Homo sapiens: one gene and its partners. The protein of the gene in region 1 interacts with the protein of each later gene in a pairwise test. Each region holds a gene or a part of one and is shown in the gene's direction. Other genes may lie near its edges. The genes, in order: PPP1R16B, SHC3, FLYWCH1, ZNF410, HUNK, KCTD9 and IKZF3.

Region 1 (4,346 bases):
ACAGAGGCTGCAGCCAACCTGGTTTAGGAGAAGGCAGAAGGCACATACCTGAATTCAGGTGCTGTGCTTGGACTCTTGGGACCCCATCCCCCCAACCTTTCCCTCCCCTCTCCCAACCTAGCCACCACCCCTCCTGCACCCAGGACTCTTGTCACATTTGTTGACCAGGAGGTCCCAACTGGCACTCTTCCAGCAGAGACCAGGAAAACCTTCACTGTCCTGAGTGCATCTTAGCAATTGGGCTTCAAGAAGGGCTCGGACAAGCCTGCCTCTTACAGAAAGCTACGAGTATGAAGAGTGAGGGAGCCAGAGAGGTCTAATTTTAATTAGGGATCTATACCTAAAAGCTCTGTGACCCTGTATACATGACTTAATCTCTCTGAGTCTGGTTTTCTCATTTGTAAAATAGGTATCACAGTAATGCCTACTTTGTGGGATTGTAAGGATTCCATGAGACCATTAACACATAGAAAGTGCTCAGTACTAGGGTGGAGCATAGTGGCTCACACCTGTAATCCCAGCAGTTTGGGAGGCCAAGGCGGGAGGATCACTAGACGTCAGGAGTTCGAGACCAGCTGGCCAACATGGTGAAACCCCATCTCTACTAAAAATACAAAAATTAGTGCAGCATGGTGGCGCATGCCTGTAGTCCTAGCTACTTGGGAGGCTGAGGCACGAGAATTGCTTGAACCCGGGAGCAGGAGGTTGCAATGAGCCGAGATCACATGACTGCACTCCAGCCTGGGTGACAGAGCGAGACTCCATCTCAAAAAGAAAAAGAAAAAAAAAAGTGCTCAGTACAGCATCTGGTGTGGGTAGGAATGCAGGAAATGATCATTGTCACCATCACTACTATTTCCTCCTTTGTGTTGGACTCTCAAAGGTCCCACCTCCTCCAGTGCTAGGGTGGGGAGTGAGTGCGACCCTGTCTCTTCTGCCTGTAGCCATCAGGACGGGGAAAGCCTCTCAGCCTGTCTCCTGGGGCGGGGGTGGGGGCTCACTCCTGGGAACTTGAGTCTAGCACCAGCTTTTCCCCGGGGAGTCTGTGAGCAGCCACTTAGCCTTTCTCAGCTGACTGCCATTTTCCAGGATTCATTGATTCATTCAAAAGACGTTTATTCCATCCCAGCCCTTGTGCTTAGCAAGGGATTTCAAGATGAATGAGGCAGCTCTCAGAGTTCTCCCTCTATGGGGAGAGGCAGGCCTGGAGACAGATAATGAGGACACTGTGGGATAAAGGCTGCAACAGCAAGAAGAGAGAGTGACGAGCAGATCCACATGGCTCAGGCTGACCCAGGTCTGAATCTTGAAGCTGCCACCTTGTAGCTGGGTGAGGATGGACAGAGGCCTTACCTCTCAAGCAGATAAGCCACCTCCCTAAGATGATGATGTGAGGAGAGAAGTGAGACACTGTGGATAAAAAACCTAGCTTGGACCAGGTGCGGTGGCTCATGCCTGTAATCCCAGCAATTTGGGAGGCAGAGGTGGGCAGACTGATTGACTCCAGGAGTTCGAGACTAGCCTGGGCAATATGGCAAAACCCCGTCTCTACAAAAAATACAAAAAATTAGCCAGGCATGGTGGTGTGCACCTGTAGTCCCAGCTACTTGGAAGGCTGAGGTGGGAGAATCACCTGAACGGGGGAAGTGGAGGCTCCTGTGAGCCATGATTGCGTGCACCTCTGCACTCTAGCCTGGGCAACAGAGTAAGACCTTGTTTCGAAAAAAAAAAAAAAAAAAAAACAAAACCAAAAAACTTAAAAACCCAGCTTGGGCTTTCTAGATATTAATAAGTGCTCACAGATGTTCGTTGCTATTATTAGTCTATTATTGCCAATAACAGGTGGGCAAAAGTTGCTGTGGGAGCATGTTGAGCCCTTCAGTGACAGTTTTCCAGGTGGTAGGGCAGCCCTAGCCGGGAGAACAGCATGTGCAGAGGCACCGAGGCTTAAAAGTGCTGGATGTTTTTGGAGAGCAGTGGGAGGAGTTGCTGATGGAGCAGAGTCATGAGAAAGTTTGATGGAGGCAGAAGCAAGGCCAGGGAGGTAGCAGAGGCTATCCTGCCGGGAGCCCCGAAGGATTAAACACTCACTGACCCGAGGCAGTCCCTCTGCACCTTCCTTGGAGGGTGGTTCTCTAGTGAGGGTTGTCCAGGAAACTTCAGGATTAACTTTTGCATGGGAGGAAGGGCTGGTCTCTGCTCAACTATCCATACATTCACCATCCTTCCCTCTTCATTCCACCCAGGAAGCACGAAGAAGAAGAGGTCCACTCCCTCTTCCTGAGATGCTTTTCCCACCTCTGCACTTGTTTCTCTCTTCCTGGGACTCAGTTTCTCACCTGAGAGAAGAGGGTAGAAGTGGAGGAAGCGTCATGACCTGACTCACTGATTGATCATGATATAGCACCAAGTGCATTTCTGGATGCTGGTCACTGTCAAAGGTCTTTACTTGCATCGCCATTGAATTCTCATACCAATCCGTTGAAATGAATGCACTTATCCCCCACTGCACAGAGGGAGAAACCGAGGCACAGAGGGTGAGGCAATTTGCTAAAGGGCATGCAGCTTGTAAGTGACAGGAACTCACGTCTTGGGGGGCATCTCAAAGTTGCCATGTGCTATCCTTCACCACCTTCTTCACACACTTTGTAAATCTAAGGCTGACTGCAGAATATCTGGCCTCTTTTGCTTTGTGTACCTTTGGGCGCTGGGCAGTAGGCATTTTGGAGATGGGTCACAGTGGGGTGTGCTCTGGGTATGTAACCTGACTTTGGGGAAATTCCTGGGTGCAGACGCTTTGTGGGGAGGTGTTCTTGGATGTCTCAGAATCTAGAATGGCATTCCTTCGCCCACAGATGTGCCTTGATGCAGGCAATGTGCAGCTTGATTGATGTGGCAAGATGGTGGCTGAGCCCCACGGTGGCCCCAGGAAGGAATGAATGAATCTTTTAGGATGGCTGATCAGAGCATCACATGACCACAGACCCTCCCTGTTTCAGAGGACATCCAAACACAGGCTTACATTTCCTTTTACATGGGGGCAAAGTTTGGGGCCAGGGTTCAAATGCTGGCTCTGCCTCCACTGGCTTTGGGGCCTAGGGAAATTTTTTCACTTCCTTGAACCTTAATTTCTTCATCTGGAAATAAAGATGAAGAAATAAGTTGCTAATTTTAGCATCTTCAATAAGTTGCTAAATAGTAACTCACAAACACAATTCTGAATTGTCATAAGGATTTGTAATCATATGGAAAATGCTTGGCTTCCAAGCTGTAGATAATATTGATGTAATATCCAGCAGATTTTTCTCTGCAGTACTTATAATTGTGATTATATGGTTATATGTGAGCATTACTCTTTTAGTCTTCTGTTTCATCCACTAGACCTGTGGTTCTCAACTTGGGGCAGTTTGACCCTCCCCAGGGGATATTTGGCAATGTCTAAAGACGTTTTTGGTTGTTACAACTTTTCGGGGGATAGTGGGGGAGAGGAGCTACTGACATCCAGTGAGTAGACACCAGGGGTGCTGCTAAATATCCTGTGGTGCACAGGAGAGCACCCCCACAACAGAAAATGATCTGATCCCAAATATCAATAGTGCTGAGGTTAAGAAAGACTACACTGGACGATGAGCCCCATAAGGTCCGTGACTGTGTCCAATTCATTCAGCTGTGTGTCTCCAGTTGGCCAGCGTGATCAGCATGATGTCCAGCACACAGGAGACAATCAATATGCATTAAAGGAATGAATGAGGACTTGGAAGGCCTTATGTCCCCTGGAGTCCCAGGGGTTTAGCTTGTGGAACATTTTGAATAGGCAGAAGAGATTTAGATGAACTTGAATGATGAACAGCCAATTAGTAACTCAGGCCAAAGACATTCAGACCGAGCTCTCTGTTTTCCTTCCCAAGCAGGTGCTTGGGGGCCCAGATTATCTGAATTGTTCCTGCCATCACCACTGCATTTTACCCATGTAGATACAGGACCCGTCTTTATCTGGAAAGTAGGCTGGGGCAGAGGAGCATAGGTGCTGTCAGCTGGGCCCTTGGGATTTGCCAAGCTGGGGCACAGCTGCTTGTCAGCTTCCTGTTTTGTCCCTTTCTAGTGGAATGAAGGAAACCCACTGAATGGCTATTTTCCACTGACATTTACAGCAATGTGATAGGCCTTGGATTAATGAGGTCAAACTGCAGTGTGAAATCTGCCTGATAACTTGAAGCTTGGCCAACGGGAAGACATCGCTTGTTTTCTTTGGACCGTTTGATGTCCCTGGATGGCTTTAGGCAGGAAAGCAGGGGTCTCAATTCTGTACGAAAGAGGAGGGTGTTTTACTTCCTGGAATTATAGAG
Region 2 (4,346 bases), on another chromosome or scaffold:
ATCTGACTAGACTCTTCAATGTAGAAAGCATGTTGAGAAATAGGAGAGTAGAAACACAGTCCATGATGTTGCAGGTGGTGCTCCCCAGCGAGGGAATGTTAGCACGACACTTCATTCTCACACCTACAGCCTGGGAGACAGTGGTGTGCTGGCAAATGTCCAGCCACAGGCTCTTGGGAACGCTTTTTAAAAAGCCCTGAACCAACTCCTGCCAGCTGGATTGAGCTGGCTTCAACACACCACCGCCCATAGGGTATGAAAGACACCCTCTTTCCAGAAATGTGAATACCACAGGGTGTTCTTGCGAACATGTTTACGTAAGAAGATTGGAGACAGGGCGCACACACAAAAAGACTCCGAGAAGGATCTGAACAGGCGTTCTCCGGCAACTAGGTCTGGGTGTCACTTTCACCCAGGGTCTGGGTGACAGAACAGCCCGGGCCCAGCCTCAGCACACCCACTGGCTAGCTGTGAAGTCCTGTCAAGGCACTAGGTCTTTCACACTAGGTCTCGGTGACAGAACAGCCTTGGCCTAGCCTCAGCACACCCATTGGCTAGCTGTGAAGTCACATCGAGGCAGCATCACTGCCTCAGCAGAGGGGGCTCTTCACTTGCACACCCACCCTGGGCTTCCTTCACAGACCCAGGGGCAGTAACTGCAGCCCTATTTTATAAGGAAGGAGTCTCTCTCAGTTCCTTAGGAGGTACAGAGCTTCTATTGTATTGCTTGAATGAAGTTAATTTATAAAGCATTTGCTTATATTTAAAAAGAAAACAAGAGCAATTAATATAAGGCTTGTGGTCCTTCTGCTCAGTTATTTGATCTTGGAGCATTTGTCAAGGAGAGGAGGTCAGGCATGTTCTGCCTGCCAGGCTCCTGCGGTCTTGGGGCAGCAAGGGCCAAAATTTTTGCTAAGGCCATCACAGTGGAGCCATCAAGGTGTCCACCCTGACATTGGCTGGCAGACCCCATGCTGATATGAAGGACTGGAAAACATCCTAGCTGGGTCACAGCAGTGTGTGGTGACAAGCTCAGAAGAGGAGAATATCACCCATAGGAATCCGAAGGAGGAGGTTTCCCATTTGCAGGCAGAAGAGCTTCTTTGTGAAAGGCTGGGTGGCTTGAATAGTGTCACCATCGTAAAAGAAAAGGGGCTCACTTTCTTGTTGCAGGGTCCTCGGACATCTACAGCACGCCAGAAGGGAAACTGCACGTGGCCCCCACGGGAGAAGCACCCACCTACGTCAACACTCAGCAGATCCCACCACAGGCCTGGCCGGCTGCGGTCAGCAGTGCTGAGAGCAGCCCAAGGAAAGACCTCTTTGACATGAGTGGGTTTCTGTTTGTCTCTGGTTTTCTTTTCTTTTGAGGTTGCTTTTTATCCTGCCTTTTATTTGAAATCTGTGTAATTACTGAATTTTCTGATAGTAGGGTTTTGGTTAATGGTGATGATTAGCTGTACTTTTCTGGGTGATGATTGGGTTTGTTTAAGGCTTTAGGATTATAGCCCTCTCTGTAGTCAAGAGACAGAGCAATTTCCCCCTCTTTTTGGAATTGACGTTCCTCTTGAAGATCTGCAAATGTATTGAGACAATATACATACACAAATGTTTATTTATTCATTTAAATAGTAATTGGCTATTATGTGCCAGCTACTGTATTAGTTGCTAAGGATGCAAAGATGAAATGGCATGGCCCGTGTTTCCACGGATCTCTAGGTCTATGAAGCAGACCAACATTTAACATATAGGCAAGAAATTGCAACACACCTCTCTCTTATGAGGGTTTTCTCTCTCTTTCTCCTCTCCTCCCACTTGTGCTCTCATTTTTTTCTCTCCTTTTTTCTCTCTTGCTCACCTTTTACCTCACTCCAAATATTTACTGAACACTTACCATTTGTCAAATACTATTCTACTTGATGGAGATATACAGGAAAACAAAACCAGCAAAGTCTCTACCTCGTGGAGGTATCTATTACCAGGTAGTGGTACATGCTCCTCAGTTATGAAAACTAAACAGGATAAGGAGAGTAATAGGAATCTATTGCAGATAGCATTATAGTGGGATGTGTACCACAGACTTTCTGTTTGTCATATAGACTGAGGAAATTAAATCGTTCATGAACTGATTAATGAAAGTGAAAATTTTTGTTAAAAAATTTTGAAAGAGCATCACAAGCTCACAAGAGCTAAATTTGCTTTTCATATTCCTCGAGAATTTTATAGGCTGAAGAGGGAGGGAATGGAGACTAGTTCTGAATGATTTTCTACCATGTGCTAAACACTTATTTTTAAATTTTTACAGGTAGGTATTACGATAACTACTGTTATCTTTATTTTACAGAGAAGGAAACGAAGAATCCTAGAAGTTAACTAACTTTATCATTTGTGAAAGGCAGCCTTGCTGGTCCAATATCTGTGATTTGTGGTATTTTGTATGAGTGAGGACAGTGTTAAGTGCCTTTATAATTAGGCAGCCTCATGAAAACAACACTGTTTCTCTCCAGCAAATTTGACTTCCCAGACACACTGGACCCCCATTTTGACTTAACAAAAATAATCTAAGCAAGAACTGTAGAATCTTAATGCTTGAAGCCACCTTCAATGCTAGATCACCTAATTCAGTCCCGCCAGTGCCTTTATTTTTAAAAATGTGAAAACAGCTTGAGAAATGTGAAGCCACTTTTTCAAGATGCAAAGCACAGTGGTGGCTCTCCAAGCTTTTGCTGGAGTTGTTATAGTACCTCCAAACTGCAGTTTAATAGTTCCATGTCTGGTTAGACCATTTTTACTGTTTAATATAGTCAATTTACCAATGACTCCTGGACACGGACCCTAAGGAAAGTTAGATTGGCTGGTGTTTGGGATGAAAAAATGAGAACCAGAGCTACCCTTTTCCCACCAGTTAATTTCTCCTCCTGCTTTCAAAACCTAAGGAGGGGAAACAGGATGTGAAAAGAGCCTTAGAAAGGCTGGTGCCTATTGAAAAGTATGGAACTAAATAAAGCCAGCACTCTGTGTTCTTTATTTTGAACCAGTAGATCTAAATATAGCGGTGCTGATGTGATGATGGTGGTGATGATGGTGCTGCTGCTGATGGTAATTTTGATGGTGGTGGTGGTGGTGATGGTGGTGGTGATGATGATGATGGTGATGATGCTGCTGATGGTGGTGGTGTTGATAGTGATGATGATGGTGATGATGATGGTGGTGATGCTGCTGCTGATGGTGCTGGTGGTGGTGATGATGGTGGTGATGATGCTGATGATGGTGCTGGTGGCAAAGGTGGTGGTGGTGATGGTGATAATGGTGGTGAGATGGTGGTGATGCCGATGGTGGTGGTGGTGGTGGTGGCAATGGTGATGGTGATAGTGCTGATGGTGCTGATGGTGGTGATGCTACTGCTGCTGCTGTTACTGCTGCCGCTCCTGTTGCTGCTGGTGACAGTGATGGTGATGATGATGGTTATGCTGGTGACAATGATGGTGATGATGATGATGATGACAATGGGGATGATGGTGATAATGGTGATGATCCTGATGATGCTGATGGTAATGGTGGTGGTGATAATGGTGAGGGGATAGTGATGATAGTGTTGATGGTGGTGATGCTATTGCTGCTGCTGCTGTTGCTGGTAGTGACAGTGATGGTGGTGACAATGATGGTGATGATGATGGTTATGATGGTAACAATGGGGATGATGGTGATAATGGTGATGACGATGGCGACGATGGCGGTGATGCTGATGGTGGTGGTGGTGCCAATAAAAGTGAATGTGGGGATGGTGGCGATGTTGGGGATGATGCTGACGATGTTGATGATGTAGATGATAGCAAAGGTGGTAATGATGTAGAAACAGTATAAAACAAATGACAATTCCAGGTAATCAGGAAAAAAGTCAGATGAAAAAGAACTTCCACAGACATAATTTTTGCCAATGGTTCTAACTTATTTTTATCTCCAAATCTGTCAAAGATTAATAAGCATCAAAAAGAGCTAATTTTAGTTTCATTTACTCACCTCACTTCTGCCCACGCTGTACTAACATCGAACAAGTTTGGCTTATTTTACAGCATCTGTTGACTATACTGAATGAACTGTGTGCTAGGAGCAATGCTGGGCTCTGAGGGTGTAGTTATGCTCAGGAAAGAACCACTCCTGTTCTTGTGCTGCTTATGTTGTATGTATGTGTATGCTTATGGGTAGACAGCGTAGTCTGAAATAACCATCGCACTACCTTCCACTTGCATAGCACTGTGCATTTTTCAGAGTCCTTTCATACACACTACCTTATGTGAAAATCGAACATCGGGATTTAGTTAGACATGCCTGGCTACTTCTTTTGC
Region 3 (4,346 bases), on another chromosome or scaffold:
ACAGTAACAAATCCAAGTTGGCCAGGCACAGTGGCTCACGCCTGTAATCCCAGCACTTTGGGAGGCTGAGGCAGGCGGATCACCTGAGGTCAGGAGTTCGAGACCATCCTGATCAACATGGAGAAACCCCGTCTCTACTAAAAATACAAAATTAGCTGGACATGGTGACGCATGCCTGTAATCCCAGCTACGCTGTAATCCCAGCTGCTTGGGAGGCAGGAGAATCACTTGAACCTGGGAGGCGGAGGTTGCAGTGAGCCAAGATCGCGCCACTGCCCTCCAGCCTGGGCAACAAGAGTGAAACTCCATCTCAAAAAAAGAGAAGAAAAGAAAACAGCCTGGCCAACATGGTGAAACCTTGAAAGAAAACAGCCTGGCCAACATGGTGAAACCCTGTCTCTAAAAAAAAAGTTTATAAATCAGCTGGGCACAGTGGTGCACGCTTGTGGTCTGAGCTCCTCAGAAAAGGGGAGGATCACTCTAGCCCGGGAGGTTGAGGCTGCAGTGAGCCATGCACTGCAGTCCAGCCTGGGTGACAGAACAAGACCCTGTCTTTACAAGAAATTTTTTTGAGAAAAGGATTTCTTTGAGAAAGCCACTATCGAGCTTACAGAGAAAGTTGTGCTGGAGGCCTGGCCTTTCATCTTTGATGTCTAGTTGACCCCCACTATTTTCCATGACAGCAGCTGAAGGTCAACTCTTAGGAGCTCAAGTAGCTGCTGTTACCTGGGAAGGTAATTGATGCGTTGAATTCCCAGCGTTGCTTCACCCGGTTGTCTTTCTCCTCACAGCCTTGAGGGCGTCGTTAACAAGGTGTGTGTCCTTGGTTCTGTCAGCTTCAACAAGAGAAGAATTATTAATTCATATTTTCAATTATTTTTCCACAGAAAAGATTCAAGTTCAGCTGTGCTTCAAGACGTGTTCTCCTGAAAGCCAGCAGATTTATGGGTAATTGTATTTGTTATCTAATGGTGCATGACCAATTACAACAAAACGTAGTGGGCTTAAAACAACAAATATTTGCTGTCTCAGCTTTTGTGGGTCAACATTATGGGAGTGGTTGGGCTGGGTGGTTCTGACTCCTGAGGTTGAAGAGAATTTGTCAGCCAGGGTGGCAGTCATCTGAAGGCCCAAGTGAGGCTGGAGGCCCTGCTCCTCACCATAGGGACCCCTCCTTGGGCCCACTTGAGCATCCTTCACATGACAGCCATGGGACAGAGAGAGAACAAGAGGGAAGCTGCCAGCAGCAGAATTCAGGTTCTTCTCAACCACAGCCAGGCCATAAAGCAAGAGTCCATTATTTTATTTTTTGAGATGGAGTCTGTGTGTGGCCCAGGCTGGAGTACAGCGGCATGATCTCAGCTCACTGCAAACTCTACCTTCCGGGTTCAAGCAATTCTCCTGTCTCAGCCCCCTGAGTAGCTGGGATTACAGGCATGTACCACCACACCGAGCTGATTTTTGTATTTGCAGTAGAGATAGGGTTTTATCATGGTGGCCAGGCTGAGTCTCAAACTTCTGACCTCAAATGATCCTCCTGTCTCGGGTCTCCCGAGTGCTGGGATTACAGGCAAGAGCCACTGTGCCCAGCCTTGTTATTGGTTTGTAATTACATCCCACTATGGTCAAAGAACATACTTTGTATCATTTCAGTCCTTTCACGGCTGGATACAGTGGCTCATACCTGTAATTCCAGCACTTTGGGAGGCCAAGGCAGGCAGATCATTTGTAATTCCAGCACTTTGGGAGGCCAAGGCAGGCAGATCATTTGAGGTCAGGAGTTCGAGACCAGCCTGGCCAACATGGTGAAACCCCATCTCTACTAAAAATACAAAAATTAGTCAGGCATGGTGGTACATGCATGTAATCCAAGCTATTCGGGAGGCAGAGGTTGCAGTGAGCCAAGATTGTGCCACTGCACTCCAGCCTAGGTGACAAACAAAAACCAAATCAAAAACAGAGAAATTTGGGAAACTCAGAAATACGTAGAAATTAAAGAACACACTTATAAGAAACCAGTGAGTCAGACTGGGCATGGTGGCTCACGCCTGTAATCTCAACACTCTGGGAGGCAGAGGCAGGAGGATCACTTGAGCCCAGGAGTTTGAAACCAGTTGGGGCAACAGAGCATGACCCTGTGTGTAATTTAAAACAAACAAAACAATGAGCCAAAGAAGATAATTATAAAATACTTTGAAATAAAACTTATGGGATGCACTGAAAGCCGTGCTTAGAGGGAAATCTATAGCTAAAAACACTTCTATTAAAAAGGAAGAAGCCTGGGCAACATGGTGAGACCTCGTCTCTGCCAAAAACTCAGCCAGTCATGGTAGCATGTGCTGGTAGTATCGCTTGAACCTGGGAGATTGAGGCTGCAGTGAAGCATGATTGTACCACTGCACTCCAGCCTGGGAGACAGAGCAAGATCCCATCTCTAAATGAATAAACAGGGCCAAGCATGGTGGCTCACACCTGTAATCCTAGCATTTTGGGTGGCTAGGGTGGGAGGATCGCTTGAGCCCAGGAGTTCCATACTAGCATGGGCAAGACCTCATCTCCACAAAAAATAGAAAAACTAAAAAAAAAAGAACTAAAAGTCTGGGCGTGGTGGCTCACACCTGTAATCCCAGCACACTGGGAGACCGAGGGAGGTAGATCACGAGACCACGGGTTCAAGACCAGCCTGACCAACATGGTGAAACCCCATCTCTACTAAAGATAGAAAAATTAGCCAGGCGTGGTGGTGGGAGCCTGTAGCAGGAGAATTGCTTGAACCCAGGAGGTGGAGGTTGCAGTGAGTCGAGATTGCGCCACTGCACTCCAGCCTGGGCGACAGAGCAAGACTCATCTCAAAAAAAAAAAAAAAAAAAAAAAAAAAACTGAAGCAGAAGGAAGGAAATAAATAATAAATGAAACCAAAAGTTGGTTCTGTATAAGGATCAATAAAATTGACAAATATTTAGCTCTATCTACAGATCAAAAAAATTGAAAAGCAAGAATACTGAAAATACTAAAATCAGGAATAAAGATGAGACCTTACTATGGACCTCATTCTGGCAGAGTCTCATTCTGACACCCAGGCTGGAGTGCAGTGGTGCCATCTCAGCTCACTTGAACCTCACCCTCCTGAGTAGCTGGGACTACATGCACGCACCACCACGCCTGGCTAATTTTTCTATTTTTAGTAGAAACGGGGTTTTCCCATGTTGTCCAGGCTGGTCTCCAACTCCTGGGCTCAATCAGTCCACCTGCCTTGGCCTCCCAAAGTGCTGGCATTACAAGCATGAGCCGCAATGCTTGGCCCCAGCTCATTCTCTAAGACCAGTATCACCCTGATATCAAAACCAAGCAAAGGAATCACAAAGAGAAAACTACAGACCAGTATTTCTTAGGAACGTAGAATACCAGCAAACAGAATCCAGCAACATAAAAAAGGATTATATACCATGACCAAGTAAGATTTATCCCAGGAATGCATCAACATGCAAAACCAATTAATGTAACACAGCAGGCCTGAGACTGCTGCCCTAAGAACAGCCTGTGTGCAAGGTTCACCCTTGGCTGGCATCTGGGAACTTTTTTTTTTTTTTTTTTTTTTTTGAGACGGAGTCTCACTCTGTCGCCCAGGCTGGAGTGCAGTGGTGTGATCTTGGCTCACTGCAAGATCACTGTGAGTGATCCCAGGTAGCTGGGATTAGAAGTGCGCACCACCACGCTCAGCTAATTTTTGTATTTTTAGTGGAGACGGGGTTTCGCTATGTTGGCTAGGCTGGTCACGAACTCCCGACCTCAAGTGATCCACCCGCCTCGGACTCCTAAAGTGCTGGGATTACAGGCATGAGCCACCACGCCCAGCTGGCATCTGGGAACTTGACTGGTAAAGAGCTCCTATGTGGATACAATACTATCCCCAAATAACAACTGCTCACTCTTTTCTATACAAATCATGTGATATTTGCTGAACACTTGCTTTTCTTCTGAGCCTGGCATTTCGGTGACCATATTCAGTCACGCAGGCACAACGTACCTACATGAGCAACCCCCAGTGAAAACCCTGGACTCCTGGGCTCAGGCAGGCTTCCCTGGTAGAGAACACTTTGCACATGTCACAGCTCGAGGCTGGAGGATTCAGCACATTCTGCGGGAGGGGACCCCAGGGGAGGGGACTCTGGGGGCTTGTACCTGGTTTCCTCCGGCCCTCACCCCAAATGCATCTTCCTGTTACTAATTCTGCGTCGCATCTTTTCACCGTAGTAAATCCCAGCCACTAGTATGATGGTAGGCTAAGTCCTGTGAGTCCCTCAAGTGCAGTCACCAAGCCTAGTGTGTGATGGGGATGCCTGCAT
Region 4 (4,346 bases), on another chromosome or scaffold:
GGGATTACAGGCATGAGCCACTGCGCCCAGCCTAAACTGGCAGTTTTTAAGTGTAGTACGTTCCAGTCTTGGGAGAAGTCAGAGAATATGTTTTAGAGTTTAAGTTGAGATGGGAGGGATGAATAGACATCATCTTGATGGAGAAGTAGGAGTTGGAAGAATATAACAGGCAGAAGGACAGCAGTGTGTACAAAGGTAGAAGGTAAGGGAGTAGAGGGCCTCTGTGGAACTGTAAATAGGGTTGAGTGTGATGGGACATGGGATGAAGAGATGGGCTGGAGAGGAAAATTGAGAGCTGGAAAGATAAGCTAGTCTCTTGAAAGGTCTTACAAGGCATGATTTTATCCTGGGGGCACTGAAGAACCACTGCATGGTTTGAAGTAGGGTATGACGTGATCAGATTTGTGTATTCAGAATATCCAGTAATAGTACATTTGTTCCCTAGAACCTAGGCACAAGTCTTGGAATTGGCCTCAGAGCATCCATGTATAATAGGTGCTGCCCACTTACAGCCTCAGGGAGACAGCATAACACAGGCTGCCTAAAAAACGAAAGACCTGGGTGTGGTGGATCATGTCTATAATCCCAGCACTTTTGGAAGCTAAGGTGGGAGGATCACTTGAGGCCAGAAGTTCGAGACAAGCCTGGACAACAGAGCAAGATCCTGTCTCTACAAAAAGTTTTTTAAAAAATTATCCAGGCATAGTGGTGCATACCTGTAGTCCCAGCTACTCCAGAGGCTGAGGCAGGAGGATCAACTTGAGCCCAGGAGTTCGAGGCTGCAGTGAACTATGATTGTCCCACTGCACTCCAGCCTGGGAGAGATCCTATCCCAAAAATCAAACAAAAAAAGGAAGTATGGTCTTCACTCCAGGAAGGCACAAAACCCAGTTTCATAATGGAAGCCCAAAACACTTAGAAAAATATTAACAACACAAAAGGGAAAGTGCTGTCCTGGATGTAGCTCAAAATCCTGCACTGTCACTTTTTCCTCATGGGTTTTTGTATATTTACAAACATACCCTCTGTCTGAGCCTCACTTCTTTTGTGTTTTCTTCACTTTTAGCATTATTCTCCTCCTCGTATCACAGGCATTTCCACTGCTTATCCCCTCCTTTTCTTTCTTCACTAGTTTGGGTCCTCCAATACCTTCAGTTTTTTTTCAAGCTGTGAGGCCCTCAGGGTTCCAGGCTTAGGCCTCTTCCTCATCCAAGGTCTAGGTAATAACTTGCTATTTCTCCAGTGAGTGAGGAATGTTGATTCCTTAAGAACTTTCAGGTGCCAGAGAAGGTGAAGGCTATTTGCAACACATGTCCGTTTCACCTTTTTTGGAGATCACCAAGCAGTATGGATCAAAGTCTACTGATGAACTTGTACTTCCTGTAAATATGCTCTAAAAATAAAAATAGCTTATCAAGAATATCAGAGAACAACCAAATCTGTTATCAGAAATTTTCATGAGAGGCTGGGTGCGGTGGCTAGCACTTTGGGAGGCTGGGGTGGGAGGATCAATTGAGCTTAGGAGTTTGAGACCAGCCTGGGCAACACAGGAAAACCCCATGTCTACAAAAAATAAAATAAAATTAGCTGGTCCTAGCTACTTGGGAGGCTGAGGTGAGAGGATCACTTGGGCCCAGGAAGTTGAGGCTGTAGTGAGCCATGATCTTGCCACTACACTGCAGTCTGGGTGACAGAGCCAAACTCTTTAAAAAAAAAAAAGAAGAAAAATTACCATGGGAAAAATATCAGAAACTACAAGTCACCTCTCTGGTTCAGGTGGACAATCTCTATTTTCCCTCATTATTGTGCCACATCTGAGAATTAGATGGAGGACTCATTGCACAGGCCCAACTGGGAACCCCAGGGCTTTTGGGCTGTCATACTTACTAAAGGTCATTCTAAATGGGGCTCCATATTTACATTGAGTTCACATTCTTGAACTCAAGAACCAGTATAAGAGATTCCCAGCTAGTTTTGACTACCTCTTAGAATGCTTTCCAAATCAAGGCACAAATAGAAATTACAAATTCTATAATATTTCTCATAAAGTACCTTTGCTAAGTTTGACTGCAAAGATCTGGATCTTGGCCTCCATTAAAAACACACTATTCTTAACTTTCCTGCCACACAGCATCAAATGGAATATGTGGTTTCTTTAAGGTTTAATTTTTTCTTTAGATTTTGTTTAAAAGTCTTTAAATTCCATATAATTAAACTCTTAAAAAAAAGTTTTTTTGGTGGATACAGTGTCTTACCATGTTGCCCAGGCTGATCTCAAATTTCTGGCCTCAAGCAATCCTCCTCCCTCAGCCTCCCAAAGTGGTGGGGTTATAGGCATGAGCCATGGTGCCCAGCCCAATCATTAAATTCTACTGTATAAATTACCTTCATCCAAATTAGGATCACCAAGTAAATACATCTCAAGCTGAAGAATTTATTTGATTAGATTTTAATAAGTTGTTTTTGTTCTGAATTTTACTGAATTGTTCCCATCTCATTTTTGTGTGTCTGAAAACAGTCTCAGTCTGTCACTCAGGCTGGAGTGCAGTGCAGTGGCATGATCATAGCTCACTGCACCCTTGAACTCCTGGGCTCAAGTGATCCTCCTCCCTCAGCCTCCCAAGTAGCTAGGACTGCAAGCATGTACCACCATGCTTAATTTTTAAAATTTTCTTGTAGAGACAGGGCCTCACTGTGTTGCCCAAGTGGGTCTCAAATTTCTGGTCTCAAGCAGTTCTCCTGCCTCAGCCTCCCAAAGTGCTGGGATTACAGATGTGAGCCACTGCACCCAGCCTCATTTTGTTTTTATATTAAAATGGAAGCCAATTTCATTATTTCAAAACTCCTTTGAATAGAGCCTTGTGTATAGAGTAGAATGTTAGTGGTAGTTGCCATTATGCAGGAGTCCCTTAGGCTTATCATTCTTTTAAGCCCAAGGAACCCCTAGATCTTTTATGAGTGGGTTTCAGCTCTCATATAGTACTTATAAAGGAACAGCTCCTCTTCCTATTTCCTTCTCCTACTTGAGCCTTCAGCCTATCCTTTGGCTGACACGTATAAGATTTTGGTTCCACCATTTCTGTTTTCCCTGTAAGTTAGAGATTCCTCTGTCACTGACTGATGAGTAGGTAACTACACAAACAATAGTTTGGCTTATAGACTCAGAATATTTGATTGCCAGAGTTAAAATGCCAGCCTTATGACATGGCTAAAGTGCTGTCCCAAGGCCACAGTGACATCTATCAGTCCGTGCATGTGTTTGCTTTGGAAGTAGATAGCCTTCATTCACCCCTGTAGTGCATTCTCCATCCTCCACTCTTAATACTTTTTACTATGAATTATTTTTTCTATAATTCAACTGTAACCTATTCTAGATTTGCTTTCAATCTTTTACAGTTACTAAACCAAGGAGATTTAACTGAAAGACGGACATGAGCGTGGGTGCTGACTCCTGGAAGAGCAACTCTATCTGATCTCAAAATGCGTATACTGGGAACAGGATGCCTTAGCCCACAACAGAACCAGAATGAATCTTTGAAGGCACAAGACTCTGCTTTTGCCACTCTTCCTCTTTCCTGGTATAGAAGATGGATGTAGGAGAGCTTCTTTTCTAACTACCATCTGATCAGACAAGGAATGAAGCAATGACTGTGGGCTGGGAAACTGTACCTACCTCTCTTCCCACTGCAAATTTCTGGGATAGACCAAAAGTGAATTTGATTATGTGTTGGCTGAAGTTCTTCATTCTGACTGTTGAGGGGAGGTTTTCCTTTGAAGAGTTTTCATCCCAGACTCAGCTGTCTTTTCACATGGATGAAATAATTCCTGCTACCAACAACAGAGCTTCACCAGGAAGTTGAGTTTTCAAGATGCCTTGTTGCTTTGAAGAAGGGAGTGATGTCAATTCTCTTGTTACATTCTCCCTTTAGCAACCTGAGTAAGAGACTCTCTGCCACTGGGCTGCAAAAAAATAAATTACTTGAATCTCCCCTTGGCCCAGGCTGAGGTACTATCTTGTCCTATACACTTCTACTTGGTCACTTTGCTTTCTTCGTTAATGGAACATACAGTAGCATGTTAAGAGGGATTTCATGTTTTTGTTTTTTTAAAGTTAAAAATTACATGATGCAGAGATTCAGGTTTTCCTTTAAATAAACAAAACAGCCCAGTCAGTTCTTTGGCTCTTGTTTTATACAAAATTTGTTTTCTTAGAGATTAAGAATTTAATCTTTCCCTTTAAAATAGTGTATTGATTTACCCTTAGGATTCCATACCAGTAAAACTGAACCGAGGAGTCTTAGGAAACAACAAGAACATCTTCATTTCTTAAGCCCAGGTGATAGTTA
Region 5 (4,346 bases), on another chromosome or scaffold:
AAGAAGGAGGCATTTGCAAAGCACCTGCTTGGTGAGCCCTGTGTGACAAGGCAGTGCCTGTAATTTCGAGGATTGCATTCTGCAGTTGCAGGCGGATTCTTTTGAACTTCCTGCCCTGCCTCATCTTTTTGAAGTACTTGTGAATGATGGAAATTGGCACGTAGGGCCTGGTTCCTAGTGTTCATTGATACAGGTCCCACGGACTTCAAAGGGTGCTTTGAGTCAGCGCAACAGTGCAGAAACGGTGCCCACGGAGAGGAGTACAACCCTACATTTTCTCTGCAGGTGTTGAGTCACGGCTATAGCTACCCGTGCATACCAATCCGACTCAGGTCTGTGAGACTATAGAATTCTGCATGCTGCCAGCTATTGGAGGTCAGCGCGGCAATCATCTGTCCCAGGGTTTATCTGCCCAGAAGGGGTGGGGAGTGGCAGCCATGTGCCCCCGAAGAGAGGGACAGGTTGGGGTGTTCTCCATGGGAAGGAGGCTTGGGCACAGGGTTATCATTTGCCTTGGGACATATATTCCCTCTGTCGATTATTTATGGTAACGGAGAGACCTGCTCTCTTGGCTAATTGAAACCCGTAGATAATCCCCAGGCCTTATGTTAGCTGATGGGTGAAACTTCTTTCTCTACTCAGCCCTGGTCTAAGTACTGACCTGAATTGAATTTCACGCTTTCTGATAGGAGGTGCCACTGGGTGGTACGATGACCAGCAGGAAAGAGCTAGAAACACAGGGACTGAATAGTCCCCGAGGAGGGGGATGCCTCTGTGAATTCGAGACAGCTGTTCCCTCTCCTCCATCACCAGCACCAGCCCAGTGCTACAGTGTTTTACGGTTTTTTTCAGGGTGCCCCTCCCGTGCACATTCTTGTTAGATGCCTGCAGCAGCCCTGGTGGAGGGGGTAACAGCCAGCTTGCTGGTGTTCTTGCCTGCCTTGATTACGTAGAAGGGTGCCCTGAGTAGATCTTCTCTCTGACATTCTCTATGAGTTTGCTAGGATGGTTCTAACAAATTACCACACACTGTGTGGCTTCAACAACAGAAATTTATTCTGTCACAGTTCTGGAGGCTAGGATCCAAAACCAAGGTGTTGGCAGGGCCATGCTCCCTCTGCAGCCACAGGGAGAATCCTTCCTTGCCTCTTACTAGCTTCCGGTGGTGGCCAGCACTCTTTGGCATTTTCTGGCTTATGACTGCAGCGCTCTGTCTCTGCGTCTGTCTTCACACAGTGTTCCTCCCTCTGAGTGTCTCTTCTGTCTCTTAATCTTTTCCTATGTCTCTTTATAAGGACACCAGTCATGGGATGTAGGTCTACCCTAATCCAGTGTTGCCTCATTTTAACTCGATGACATCTACAAAGTCCCTATTTTCAAAGAAGATCATATCCACAGGTACCAACGGGACTTGAAGGTATCTTTTGGGGGAGCATAGTTCAAGCTCCAGCACCTTTTTAGACTGTCAGTATTGGGTTGTGGCAAGCGGATCTTGGGAAGGAGATGAATGTGCTTTTAGGGATTACTCTCAGAACTGACCTCTGCAAGGGAAGGGGCAAAGCAGCACTGGGCAGAGGGAGAAGCTGGGCTCCAATACCGCTCTCAGCCAAAGCCCCTGCCCATGCCGTGGTGAGTGCTGGAGCTGAGCTGGCCCTTCAGAGCTGACCAACTTGGGTTGAGAGGACTGGGATTTATATTTCCGCATCGGCCAGTCCTTGATGGGGGCTGCCCAGGCAAGGGGCATGGCCTCGTACGGGACAGTTGCTGAGGGCGGTTCCTGGGGAGAGCTCACAGCTGATAGCCTGCAGCTGAGGCAGTCAGTTCTTCAGCACTGACGGGGAATCTGGGGGTGCAGCCCAGCATTTGCTGTTTACTGAAAGAGACAGGGTCAGAGTCCAGGGCTTTTCATCTGAGTCCATACCATATGGACCGTAGACAACGTGGGCATCTTTTCCATGCGCATTTTGGATATGAGTGGTCATCATTTCCATGTGTTGGTATCAAGTCCTCTCATCTCGTTACCTTGAAATATACAAAGTATGGCCAGGCGTGGTGGCTCACGCGTGTAATCCCAGCACTTTGGGAGGCCGAGGGAGGCAGATCACCTGAGGTCAGGAGTTTGAGACCAGCCTGGCCAACATGGTGAAACCCTGTCTCTACTAAAAATACAAAAAAATTAGCCAAGTGTGTGTTCCTGTAATCCCAGCTACTCGGGAGGCTGAGGCAGGAGAGTCGCTTGAACCAAGGAGGTGGAGGTTGCAGTGAGCCGAGATTGTGCCACTGCACTCCAGCCTGGGTAACAAGAGCAAAAACTCCATAACAACAGCAGCAGCAACAACAACAACAACAACAACAAAGAAATATACAAATTATTGCTGCTAAATATAGTCCCCGTAGCAAACATTAGCATTTAGTCCTTCTATCTATGTATGTTTGTACCCATGAACCAGCTTCTCTTCAGCCTGCCCTACCTTGCTGCTCGACTGTGGTCTCTCTCCCTGCAATGAGGGAGCAGCCGGCGTGGCATCTCATTAGCAGATTCTATGTGCCACACGCTGGGGGATTTTCTGGCCTCACATTTCTCTTAGGTTAGAATCATCAGGGCTCTGTTGTGTTTCTCAGTACTTACAAGATTGAAAGCTCACTTTATATGTATGCTCTATGGGTTTTTTCCTGAGAACTCTGGGGCAACTGAGTGTTGGGCCAAGTTGTGGGCCAGCATGCCTACTTCAGAGACGGTGGCACTTTCCTGGGAAGAGACCCCCCCTCCCCCATCACTCGTGAGTGGTGGGAAAAGTTGTTGAAGGAGTTGTGGGAATTTGGATTTTTGATGAGTAGAGTAACAGTTTGGGACATTCTCATGGACAAAAAAAACTACTCAGGGTAGAGCCATCTGTTAACATCCTCTTAGCACTCTTACGGTGGCCACTGTGCCCTAGCTATGCAACTTCTAATCACTGGGTTCTTTTTGGTTTTTAATCATCTTTGTGTTTTCAAGATGCATTTGGTTAAGTTTTGGAATTGGTAATACAGACACATGGTCTGAAATTCAAAGGTTCTGAGAGGGTTTGCAGTGAGAGGTAACTGCTTCTTATCTGGGCTCTTCAGTTCCTGGATCTTCTCGTGAGAGGTCACTCCTCCTTCTAGTCCTTGTGTATCCCTCCAGAGATACCCTATATGCATAGAGACCCACATACATATTTGTAAATGCGTAGTTAGGGGCAGATTTTTCTTCTTTATTGATACATAATATTTTACATATTTATGGGGTACATGTGAGTGTTCCATGCATGGAGTGTGTAATGATCAAGCCAGAGTATCGGCGTGTCCATCACCTAAGTATTCATTTCCACGGGTTGGTATTATATCAAGTCCTCTGTTCTAGTTACCTTGAAATATACAAAGTATTGCTACTAAGTATAGTCACCCTAACAGACATTAGAATTTAGTTCTTCTATCTATGTATGTTTGTACCCATGAACCAGCTTCTCTTCATCCATCCCTCCCACCCACCAGGGCAGATGTATTTTTAAACTGTACATGCTGTTCATTATCTTGCTTTTTCACTTAGCAATATGTCTTGAGCATTCTTCCCCATGACTACTACAGAATTGCCTCACTCTTTATGTTAATTAGTTATTGCATAGTAGTCATTGTGTGGAAGTATCATGTTGACTTAACCATCCCTTGTTGATGGACATTTAGGGAGTACATAATTTTTTTTTTTTTGTTATTCTCAAACCATACTTCAGTAAATATCCATGACCATTTGTCACTTTGTAAATGTGACCCCTCAGTGTATCTGAGGGGTAAATTCCTAGTCTTAGGCCAAAAGGTATGTCTATTTTAACTGTTGATAAGTATTGCCAAATTGCCTGCCATAGAGGTTGGCAATTTATAATCACATTGATAACCCTTATAATTTATAAGGGTTCCCAACTTATAACCACACCCATCTGGTATGGGAGTGTTTGCTTTTCCACATGTCAGCCAACAGGGTACTCATTTTGATCTTTGCCAATCGAGTGTATTAAACATGGTATCTTGTCTTATTTATTGTTTCTCTTATTTACATGGGAATTGAGTATATTTTCATACCTTCTCAACTGTTTGTACTTCATTTCTGTTCATTGTTCATGTCCATTCGCCAATTTTCTTTTGGGGTTTTGGCCTTTTTCTTATTGATTTATAGGAGCTCTTTATATATTAAGGAAATTAGTCGTCTTTGAGTGATATATTTTGCAGTGTCTACCACCTTCCCTCGCTCCCCATTATTCTTTCTCTTTTTCTTTGTGGTTCTTGCCATTTGCAGAAGTTATTTCTTGGGAGTTCATGAACTAGAGAAG
Region 6 (4,346 bases), on another chromosome or scaffold:
TTTAAAGAATAAGATCATGTAAATATTTAAAATGTATTTGACTAAAAGTATAGGTAGAGAAAATTGAGTTCTGTATTTAGTTACTAGTGGTGATTAGTGGTTTTGTTGGGTAAATCAGCCTGCATAAATTCAACAATTTATGTGTATTGTATATTACATAATGCACAATAAATACTTGTGTATTTATCATAACAACTTTTTGCAAATTAATTTTTTTATTGGACCTTTAGGATCCAGGCAGACAGCCAGATTAGAAAATATTTAGTGATATGGTAAATTGTTTTTGATACTTTATTAGGATTGATTAAAGTGGCAATAAAAGTTGAATTCAAATACACAAATACTTGTGTATTTATTGTGTATTATGTAATAAATCTTGTGGGTATAAAAGAAAAAAATATTTTACATGCATGTGCAGGTTTTAATTTTTAAATTTAAATAATACAGGTTACAATTTGAAAATGGTGTTTAAAGGTAAATTAAAACTAGCCAATCGTACTAGGCATGGTGTTCCATTTACTCTCCAACTCATAGGCAGCTTTCACTTGTCATGGGATCTGAAATTTAAAAATAATTGACTCTGAAAAGTAGTATAATACAGACATCATGAACTTTAATAGACATGCTTCTCAATAAATGTAAAATGCTTCTATTCTTAGGGCCTAAGTTGTTAAGGTAGATAATCCCAGTGACATGGAAACATCAGGCCACATGGTGGAGATAACACATACAAAGTAAATGACCTTTGTAAGCACTATCATTTTATGATTTATTTGGCTCAGTATGAGGACAAAAACAATCTTAGTATATACTAACTGGAGCTTATGTCCATGATATACAAGATTTTTATTGCTCCTCTTTCTCAAAAGAGTTATATAAAGAAGAATGCATGTGCCAGTCTGTTTGCAACTTTCTCCGTAACTTAATCATCTTTTCCATATGTATGACAAATTTATGTTGATATATATATTTTAAAACCTGGTTTCTAATTAGTTTAAAATACAGAGTTTTTGCATATTTGAATATTAGTATTGCAACATAACTCCTTTTTATTTGTATGGTATTGTTAGTATGTGCGAATGATTAGTTGGAAAACAAACGTCAAGAATAGCCCTCCAAGTGAAAACAAGTATATTGGCCCAACTTAAGGGAAATTTTCAAATTTCTAGAACTATAAGATTCTTCGTATTAATTTTAATTCTGTTTTCTCTAATTGACCACCCTTTGGTTATTTCACTTAAAGGAAATTGTTAACTGCCTGATTGCAAACTGCTAAAATAATTTTATTTATAGAACTAGTATCTGGAGCTATGGAGACCTTAAAATAAATTAAAACTTCCCCCCTTATTACAAAAGTAATATAGGTTCATTGTAACAAATTTGGAAAACAAACAAAATAAAGCAAAAAACTTAGCAGGGTGTGGTGGCTCATGCCTGTAATCCCAGCACTTGGGAGGCTGAGGCGGTTGGATCACGAGGTCAAGAGATTGACACCCTCCTGGCCAACATGGTGAAACCCCGTCTCTACTAAAAATACAAAAATTAGCTGGGCGTGGTGGCACGGTTTTACCATGTTGGCCAGGCTGGTCTTGAACTCCTGACCTCAGGTGATCCACCCACCTTGGCCTCCCAAAAAGTGCCGGCATTACAGGCTTGAGCCACCATGCCCAGACTGCTTTAGAATTGCATTTATACTGTGTATTTTTTTACCCTAATGACAGTGTAAGAGACTTAAATGAATATGACTGTCACACAAAAAAGGTGTGTCCTACTTCAACACTCAACATTCAAGAAATATTTGTCAAAGACCTGCTGTAAGCCAGGTAATGTACCATTTGAACCTATGGCGGTTATTAGTAGAACAGCTCAGGAATGTACTTCTTTAGTGCTGCTTATCAGCTTTACCAAGGGATAATTGGTCACCTCTATTCACAGAATTCATAACAACTTTTTGCAAATTAATTTTTTTTATTGGACCTTTAGGATCCAGGCAGACAGCCAGATTAGAAAATATTTAGTGATACGGTAAATTGTTTTTGATACCTTATTAGGATTGATTTAAGTGGCAATAAAAGTTGAATTCAATTTATACCTAGACTGTGCTCCTTAGTAGTTTTACAGCCTACAAGGAAATACCTGTTGTACTTTGATTGCCTTGAAAATAGTCCTTGCCAAGCAGTATGTGTGGTTTTTTTCTATCATCTGGTCACATTTGACTTCAGTGGGGAAGAAACAGAAGATGGCAACATCCCAACCCTCTAAATAAAACAACAAACAGGTCTTGAGTTGTATTTCATCAGTTTGTTACTTTGGGTTCCTATGTCATGGGAAAGCCTAATAGAATTAAAATAGTTGTGTTTTTTTTTCTTCATTTTTTTTTTTCTGCTCTTTAAAATGGCACTGTCTAATAGAACTACTGAGATGATGGAAATTTGTGCTATTCAATATGGTAACAATTAGCCAGTGTGGCAGTTGAGCACTTGAAATGTGGCTAGTGTGACTGAACTGCATTTTAACTTTTAATTTTAATAGATTAAAATTTAAATAGACTCATGAAGCTAGTGGCTTCCACACTGGACAGCACAGCTTTAAAACATGGCAGGTGGCCTTTATTTTCATCGGAAGACAATAGACCCACAGAAAAACCAAGTCAATCATATGGAAGTAGACGACAATTCAAGTTAGTGTATTTTGAATAAGTCATATAAGATCTTAAGCTATAATATTACATTAAGTATTAAGCATAATACAGGCAGGTGCATTCAACTTGCATCTATTTTTTGGTATGGCCAAGAGAGAACAGTGAAAGAGATGCTGAGAGAGAAAGTTGATGTTAGGGCAAGGAGGGGATATCAGGCAAAAGAAAGCCATACTGAGATGTAAGAGCCAGAGGTAAATAAGAGGGAAAAGAAAGATTTAGAAAATTCTTTGTATGATGGCAACTATGCCAAGAACATTGAATTGGGAAAGAGGTGCTTGTGCTTCTTACCCTCTTTTCACAGCACCTTCTGACTGCAGGAGTTGTTTTGCATCTGCTTTGGTCAATCTCTTGCTCCTTTGCATGTTTGCTTCTCTCTTCTCTGTCTTTACTCTCTTCATGCTCTTTGCCTTAACACAACCCCAGCTTTGCCGTGTGCAATGCCCTAGGTACTGTATTTCGCTTCGCTTTGTCCCAGGAATGTGTATAATGCAATTACAGAATACCTCACTGTGTTGCAGAGGTGAACAATCATAGGAAATATGGGGGACATGTTTTAGTCAGGCTTTTTTTTCTTTTTTTTTTTCTTGGAGAAGGAGTCTCACTTTGTCGCCCAGGCTGGAGTGTGGTGGTGTGATCTCAGCTAACTGCAACCTCTGCCTCCCGGGTTGAAGCAATTCTCCTGCCTCAGCCTCCCAAGTAGCTGGGACTACAGGCACACGCCACCACGCCCGGCTAATTTTTTGTATTTTAGTAGAGATGGGGTTTCACTGTGTTGCCCAAGCTGGTCTCGAACTCCTGAGCTTAAGCAATCCATCCGCCTCAGCCTCCCATAGTGCAGATTTTACAGGCGTGAGCCACCGCGCCCAGCCCTACTCAGGCTTTAATTATTTATGGCAAGCCTGCTGTGTGTAGGACACTGTGCCAAGTGCTTTGCAGTATTTTTTTTATTGTGATAAAAGATGGAACAAAATTTATTATTTTAACCATTTTTTAAATGTGTAATTCATTGACATTGTTTACATTCACAATGTGTGTAACCATCACCACGGTTTATTTCCAGTACTTGGTCATCATCCCAAACAGAAATTGTAACCATTAAGAAATAAGTCTCCATTCCCATCTATGCCTTGGTAACCTTTATTCTGCTTTCTTTCTCTATGAATTTGCCTGTGTTGGGTACTTTCATGTGAGTGGTATCATAGAATATTTATCCTTTTGTGACTGGCTTATTTCATTTAGCATACTGTCAAAAAGGTTCATCCATGTTGCAGCATGTGTCAGAATTCATGTCTCTTCTCTTCTCGCTTTGCTTTCCTTTCCTTTTTCTTTATTCTTTCCTTTCCTTTCCTTTTCTCTTTTCTTTTTCCTTTCCTTTTTTCTTTTCCGTCCCATCATGTCCAGGCTGGAGTGCAGTGGCGTGATCTTGGCTCACTGCAGCCTTGAATTGGCAGGCTCAAGTGATCCTCCCATCTCGGCCTCCCAAGCAGCTAAGACTACAGGCATGTGCCTCCATGCTTGGCTACTTTTTGTATTTTTTTGTAGAGACCATGTTTCACCATGTTGGCCAGGCAGGTCTCGAACTCCTGGGCTCAAGCGATCCACCTGCCACAGCCTCTCAAAGTGCTGGGATTACAGGCATGAGCCA
Region 7 (4,346 bases), on another chromosome or scaffold:
GCAGTTTGACATGAGAAGTAGGAGAGGGTGACCACAAGTATATTTTTTCAGTTAAGTGTGAGATAGGCCCTAATGATCACATGTGTATCAGAGATACACTTGCCAAGCAAAGGAAGAGAAACACACGTTAGGAAAGGGACAAAGACCATGATCTCTTCTCAAGAAAACTTTTCTCAAACTTTCTACATTTGAAGCTCTTTCACTTCAGTCTCAGTCAGCCAGGACGGGTGAGTTTGGGGAGTAGCCAGTTGGAGTCTGGGGGGCTATTTTCTCTATCTCTGTAGCTATTTAAAAAGCTGCCGAGGTGAGGCACCGAGTGTCCCCACTCTTTGCAGCACTTCTGTCCCCCTGGCTACCTAATATTGCAAGCAGAAAATAACAAGCAAAAGCAAAATAAGAGTTGGGAGCCGACTGTGTCTTAAGAGATCATGAACTATAGCAGAAGTCCCAGGCTCCTGTGGGCTGGTGGCTCCCTTGTCCCTCTAGCCCCATCCTAGTGTCCTGCTTCTTTCCCTCCTTTCTTGAGGGCTCTCCTCTAACATGCACAGTGGGCATACCTTACCATGTGGCCTCAACTGAACCACATCTCTGCCCCTCTCTTCTGCCTGCTGGCTTTATTTTAACCATCCAAACACGTTGCTGCCGACCAGTGTCCCCTGAGACAGCACCATGGGAAACCATTCTGCCAGGCTTGGTCTTCTTGAGCAGCAGGCAACTTAACTCTCCTCCCTTTTTGAGGTCTCTAGAAAATATTTACAAACTCTCTGCCTTGGCAGTGTTCCCTTTGTAACCCTTTCTGTCACTTGTTCCAGGTGAGAAGCGCCACTGCTTTGATGTCAACTATAATTCAAGTTACATGTATGAGAAAGAGAGTGAGCTCATACAGACCCGCATGATGGACCAAGCCATCAATAACGCCATCAGCTATCTTGGCGCCGAAGCCCTGCGCCCCTTGGTCCAGACACCGCCTGCTCCCACCTCGGAGATGGTTCCAGTTATCAGCAGCATGTATCCCATAGCCCTCACCCGGGCTGAGATGTCAAACGGTGCCCCTCAAGAGCTGGAAAAGAAAAGCATCCACCTTCCAGAGAAGAGCGTGCCTTCTGAGAGAGGCCTCTCTCCCAACAATAGTGGCCACGACTCCACGGACACTGACAGCAACCATGAAGAACGCCAGAATCACATCTATCAGCAAAATCACATGGTCCTGTCTCGGGCCCGCAATGGGATGCCACTTCTGAAGGAGGTTCCCCGCTCTTACGAACTCCTCAAGCCCCCGCCCATCTGCCCAAGAGACTCCGTCAAAGTGATCAACAAGGAAGGGGAGGTGATGGATGTGTATCGGTGTGACCACTGCCGCGTCCTCTTCCTGGACTATGTGATGTTCACGATTCACATGGGCTGCCACGGCTTCCGTGACCCTTTCGAGTGTAACATGTGTGGATATCGAAGCCATGATCGGTATGAGTTCTCGTCTCACATAGCCAGAGGAGAACACAGAGCCCTGCTGAAGTGAATATCTGGTCTCAGGGATTGCTCCTATGTATTCAGCATCGTTTCTAAAAACCAATGACCTCGCCTAACAGATTGCTCTCAAAACATACTCAGTTCCAAACTTCTTTTCATACCATTTTTAGCTGTGTTCACAGGGGTAGCCAGGGAAACACTGTCTTCCTTCAGAAATTATTCGCAGGTCTAGCATATTATTACTTTTGTGAAACCTTTGTTTTCCCATCAGGGACTTGAATTTTATGGAATTTAAAAGCCAAAAAGGTATTTGGTCATTATCTTCTACAGCAGTGGAATGAGTGGTCCCGGAGATGTGCTATATGAAACATTCTTTCTGAGATATATCAACCACACGTGGAAAAGCCTTTCAGTCATACATGCAAATCCACAAAGAGGAAGAGCTGACCAGCTGACCTTGCTGGGAAGCCTCACCCTTCTGCCCTTCACAGGCTGAAGGGTTAAGATCTAATCTCCCTAATCTAAATGACAGTCTAAGAGTAAGTAAAAGAACAGCCATAAAATAAGTATCTGTTACGAGTAACTGAAGACCCCATTCTCCAAGCATCAGATCCATTTCCTATCACAACATTTTTAAAAAATGTCATCTGATGGCACTTCTGCTTCTGTCCTTTACCTTCCCATCTCCAGTGAAAAGCTGAGCTGCTTTGGGCTAAACCAGTTGTCTATAGAAGAAAATCTATGCCAGAAGAACTCATGGTTTTAAATATAGACCATCATCGAAACTCCAGAAATTTATCCACTGTGGATGATGACATCGCTTTCCTTTGGTCAAGGTTGGCAGAGCAAGGGTATAAAGGGGGAAATTGTTTGGCAGCACCAACAGAAAACAAACAAACAAAAAACAGCTACCTAAAACTTCTTGAAAGAGTTCATGGAGAATTGGTGATACAGACCCAAAGCAAATTTGCCAATGATATTTTCCACAAAAAAAGTCCAAAAAGTATGGCTCAGCCTCCCCCTCCCCACAGGAGAGGAATTGGAGATAGATGGCATGTGTGTTTAGATCGGAGTTGAGCTCCGGAATGGGGTGAGGAGGGACACCTCTATTGAGAGGTTCTCCTTGATCAGGCAGGCTTCGGCCCTTTTTTTCCCATTTAAATGGAACTGCTGTATTCCATGAAAATTCCTGAAAGTCTGATCACGGTTCTGCAGATGTATAAGTCATCCTTGTCACTCATAATATGTACATACTATCAGGAGGAGTGCTGTTATCATGGTAAAATTAGCACTGGAATAGGAGGTCACAAAATGCTGGCTAATTAGCTATGTGACTTTGAGAAATCGTTTAACTTTTTTTTTTTTTTTTTTTTTGAGACAGGATCTCACTCTGTTGCCCAGGCTGGAGTGCAGTGGTGCAATCATGGCTCAGTGCAGCCTCGACCTCCCCAGGCTCAGGTGATCCTCCCACCTCAGCCTCTTGAGTACTGGGACAACAAGTGCACACCACCATGTCTGGCTACATTTTGTTCTTTTTGTAGAGATAGGGGTCTCACTATGTTGCCCATGCTGGTCTTGAACTCCTGGGCTCAAGCAATCAGCCCGCCTCAGCCTCCTAAAGTGCTGGGATTACAGGTGTGAGCCACCACACCCAGCCTTATTTAACTCTTAAAACTCAGTTTCCGGCCAGGCTCGGTGGCTCACACCTGTAATCCCAACACTTTGGGAAGCCGAGGCAGGCGCATCATTTGAGGTCAGGAGTTCGAGACCAGCCTGACCCACATGGTGAAACCCTGTCTCTACTAAAAATACAAAAATTAGCTGGGCAGTAGTGGCACATGCCTGTAATCCCAGCTACTCCGGAGGCTGAGGCAGAAAAATCGCTTAAGCCTGGGAGGTTGAGGTTGCGGTGAGTGGAGATCACACTACTGCACTCCAGTCTGGGCGACAGAGTGAGACCCTGTCTCAAACAAAACAAAACAAAAACAAACAAACAAAAACAAAAAAAACTCAGTTTCCTCATCCATAAAATAGGAATTAGATTTCAATGTTCTCTTAGGTCCCTTCTAGCTTTAATTCATATGTGATTATGCAGTAACCACAAGGTATTTTTTAAACCTCCTAATGTATGGATATTAAGCAGAAGAGTATTTATATGAATACATGTTTCACATTCCTTTGGTATGAAAATGGTGTGTTAAGTTTTTCCTTTAACCACTGAGTTGTGAATGTGAAGAAGGTGGTGGAGAGGAACAAAAAACAGAAAGGTATTTTGATCTTGCCACAAAGCATACACACAAATTGGCACATGCAGCTGTTTGCCAAAGCCTTCTTTTTTTTTTTACTTTTTAAGAAATTATGTTAGGGAAAATAAATTCTGCTTCCAGGGACAACTTCATGGAGCCTATTTACAAATTAAGAGTCAGCTTAATTTGTAACATTTCTACCAGAGCCAAGAATCCCAAATTCCTGGTAGATTAGTGTTTTATTTCTAAGGGGCTTATGCATTCGGCTCCAACTCAACTCGTCTATGTGCTGCCAGTAATTAAAATGTTCCACCTCAGACTGCACAAATGGCTTATCCTTCTTTGTGGCATGGCGTCTGTCTCAGGAAAAAAGGTTTTATGAAATTCCATGGCAACAGTCCCAACATGTTTGAGACTTCAGCTAAAGGAATGGATGTATTTTGGTGTGTAGTCTTCAGTATATCACTGTATTTCCGTAATACTAGACTCCAAGCTATGCCAGATTGCTTATTCCCTTTGTGAAAGAGGAGTTGCTCATTACGTTCTTGAAATATCGCACATCCTGTTGGTTCTTCAAGGGACAAGAGAAAGAGAATTTGGAAGCAGGGATTAGTAGAAGAGAAAACGAGGGAA

What was found.
Region 2: the proteins of PPP1R16B (region 1) and SHC3 interact in binary tests that used the Homo sapiens proteins (3 or more experiments, as listed by UniProt).
Region 3: the proteins of PPP1R16B (region 1) and FLYWCH1 interact in binary tests that used the Homo sapiens proteins (3 or more experiments, as listed by UniProt).
Region 4: the proteins of PPP1R16B (region 1) and ZNF410 interact in binary tests that used the Homo sapiens proteins (3 or more experiments, as listed by UniProt).
Region 5: the proteins of PPP1R16B (region 1) and HUNK interact in a two-hybrid assay, tested with the Homo sapiens proteins (one large-scale study listed by BioGRID and IntAct).
Region 6: the proteins of PPP1R16B (region 1) and KCTD9 interact in binary tests that used the Homo sapiens proteins (3 or more experiments, as listed by UniProt).
Region 7: the proteins of PPP1R16B (region 1) and IKZF3 interact in binary tests that used the Homo sapiens proteins (3 or more experiments, as listed by UniProt).

Annotation. Positions count from the first base shown.
Region 1 is NC_000020.11:38,808,265-38,812,610, forward strand, and holds part of PPP1R16B (protein phosphatase 1 regulatory inhibitor subunit 16B isoform 1 precursor), read left to right. Parts: intron 1-4,346. UniProt on the Homo sapiens protein: Regulator of protein phosphatase 1 (PP1) that acts as a positive regulator of pulmonary endothelial cell (EC) barrier function. Involved in the regulation of the PI3K/AKT signaling pathway, angiogenesis and endothelial cell proliferation.
Region 2 is NC_000009.12:89,039,012-89,043,357, reverse strand, and holds part of SHC3 (SHC-transforming protein 3), read left to right. Parts: intron 1-1,173; coding exon 1,174-1,332; intron 1,333-4,346. UniProt on the Homo sapiens protein: Signaling adapter that couples activated growth factor receptors to signaling pathway in neurons. Involved in the signal transduction pathways of neurotrophin-activated Trk receptors in cortical neurons.
Region 3 is NC_000016.10:2,939,145-2,943,490, forward strand, and holds part of FLYWCH1 (FLYWCH-type zinc finger-containing protein 1), read left to right. Parts: exon of another isoform or gene 1-836; intron 837-887; coding exon 888-948; coding exon of another isoform or gene 949-952; exon of another isoform or gene 953-1,017; intron 1,018-4,182; exon of another isoform or gene 4,183-4,340; intron 4,341-4,346. UniProt on the Homo sapiens protein: Transcription cofactor. Negatively regulates transcription activation by catenin beta-1 CTNNB1, perhaps acting by competing with TCF4 for CTNNB1 binding. May play a role in DNA-damage response signaling.
Region 4 is NC_000014.9:73,928,107-73,932,452, forward strand, and holds part of ZNF410 (zinc finger protein 410), read left to right. Parts: intron 1-3,396; coding exon 3,397-3,435; 3' UTR 3,436-4,326; coding exon of another isoform or gene 4,327-4,346. UniProt on the Homo sapiens protein: Transcription factor that binds to the sequence motif 5'-CATCCCATAATA-3', and is specifically required to silence expression of fetal hemoglobin in adult erythroid cells.
Region 5 is NC_000021.9:31,879,304-31,883,649, forward strand, and holds part of HUNK (hormonally up-regulated neu tumor-associated kinase), read left to right. Parts: intron 1-4,346.
Region 6 is NC_000008.11:25,447,857-25,452,202, reverse strand, and holds part of KCTD9 (BTB/POZ domain-containing protein KCTD9), read left to right. Parts: intron 1-1,721; exon of another isoform or gene 1,722-1,823; intron 1,824-2,532; exon of another isoform or gene 2,533-2,680; intron 2,681-4,346. UniProt on the Homo sapiens protein: Substrate-specific adapter of a BCR (BTB-CUL3-RBX1) E3 ubiquitin-protein ligase complex, which mediates the ubiquitination of target proteins, leading to their degradation by the proteasome.
Region 7 is NC_000017.11:39,762,960-39,767,305, reverse strand, and holds part of IKZF3 (zinc finger protein Aiolos), read left to right. Parts: intron 1-812; coding exon 813-1,516; 3' UTR 1,517-4,346. UniProt on the Homo sapiens protein: Transcription factor that plays an important role in the regulation of lymphocyte differentiation. Plays an essential role in regulation of B-cell differentiation, proliferation and maturation to an effector state.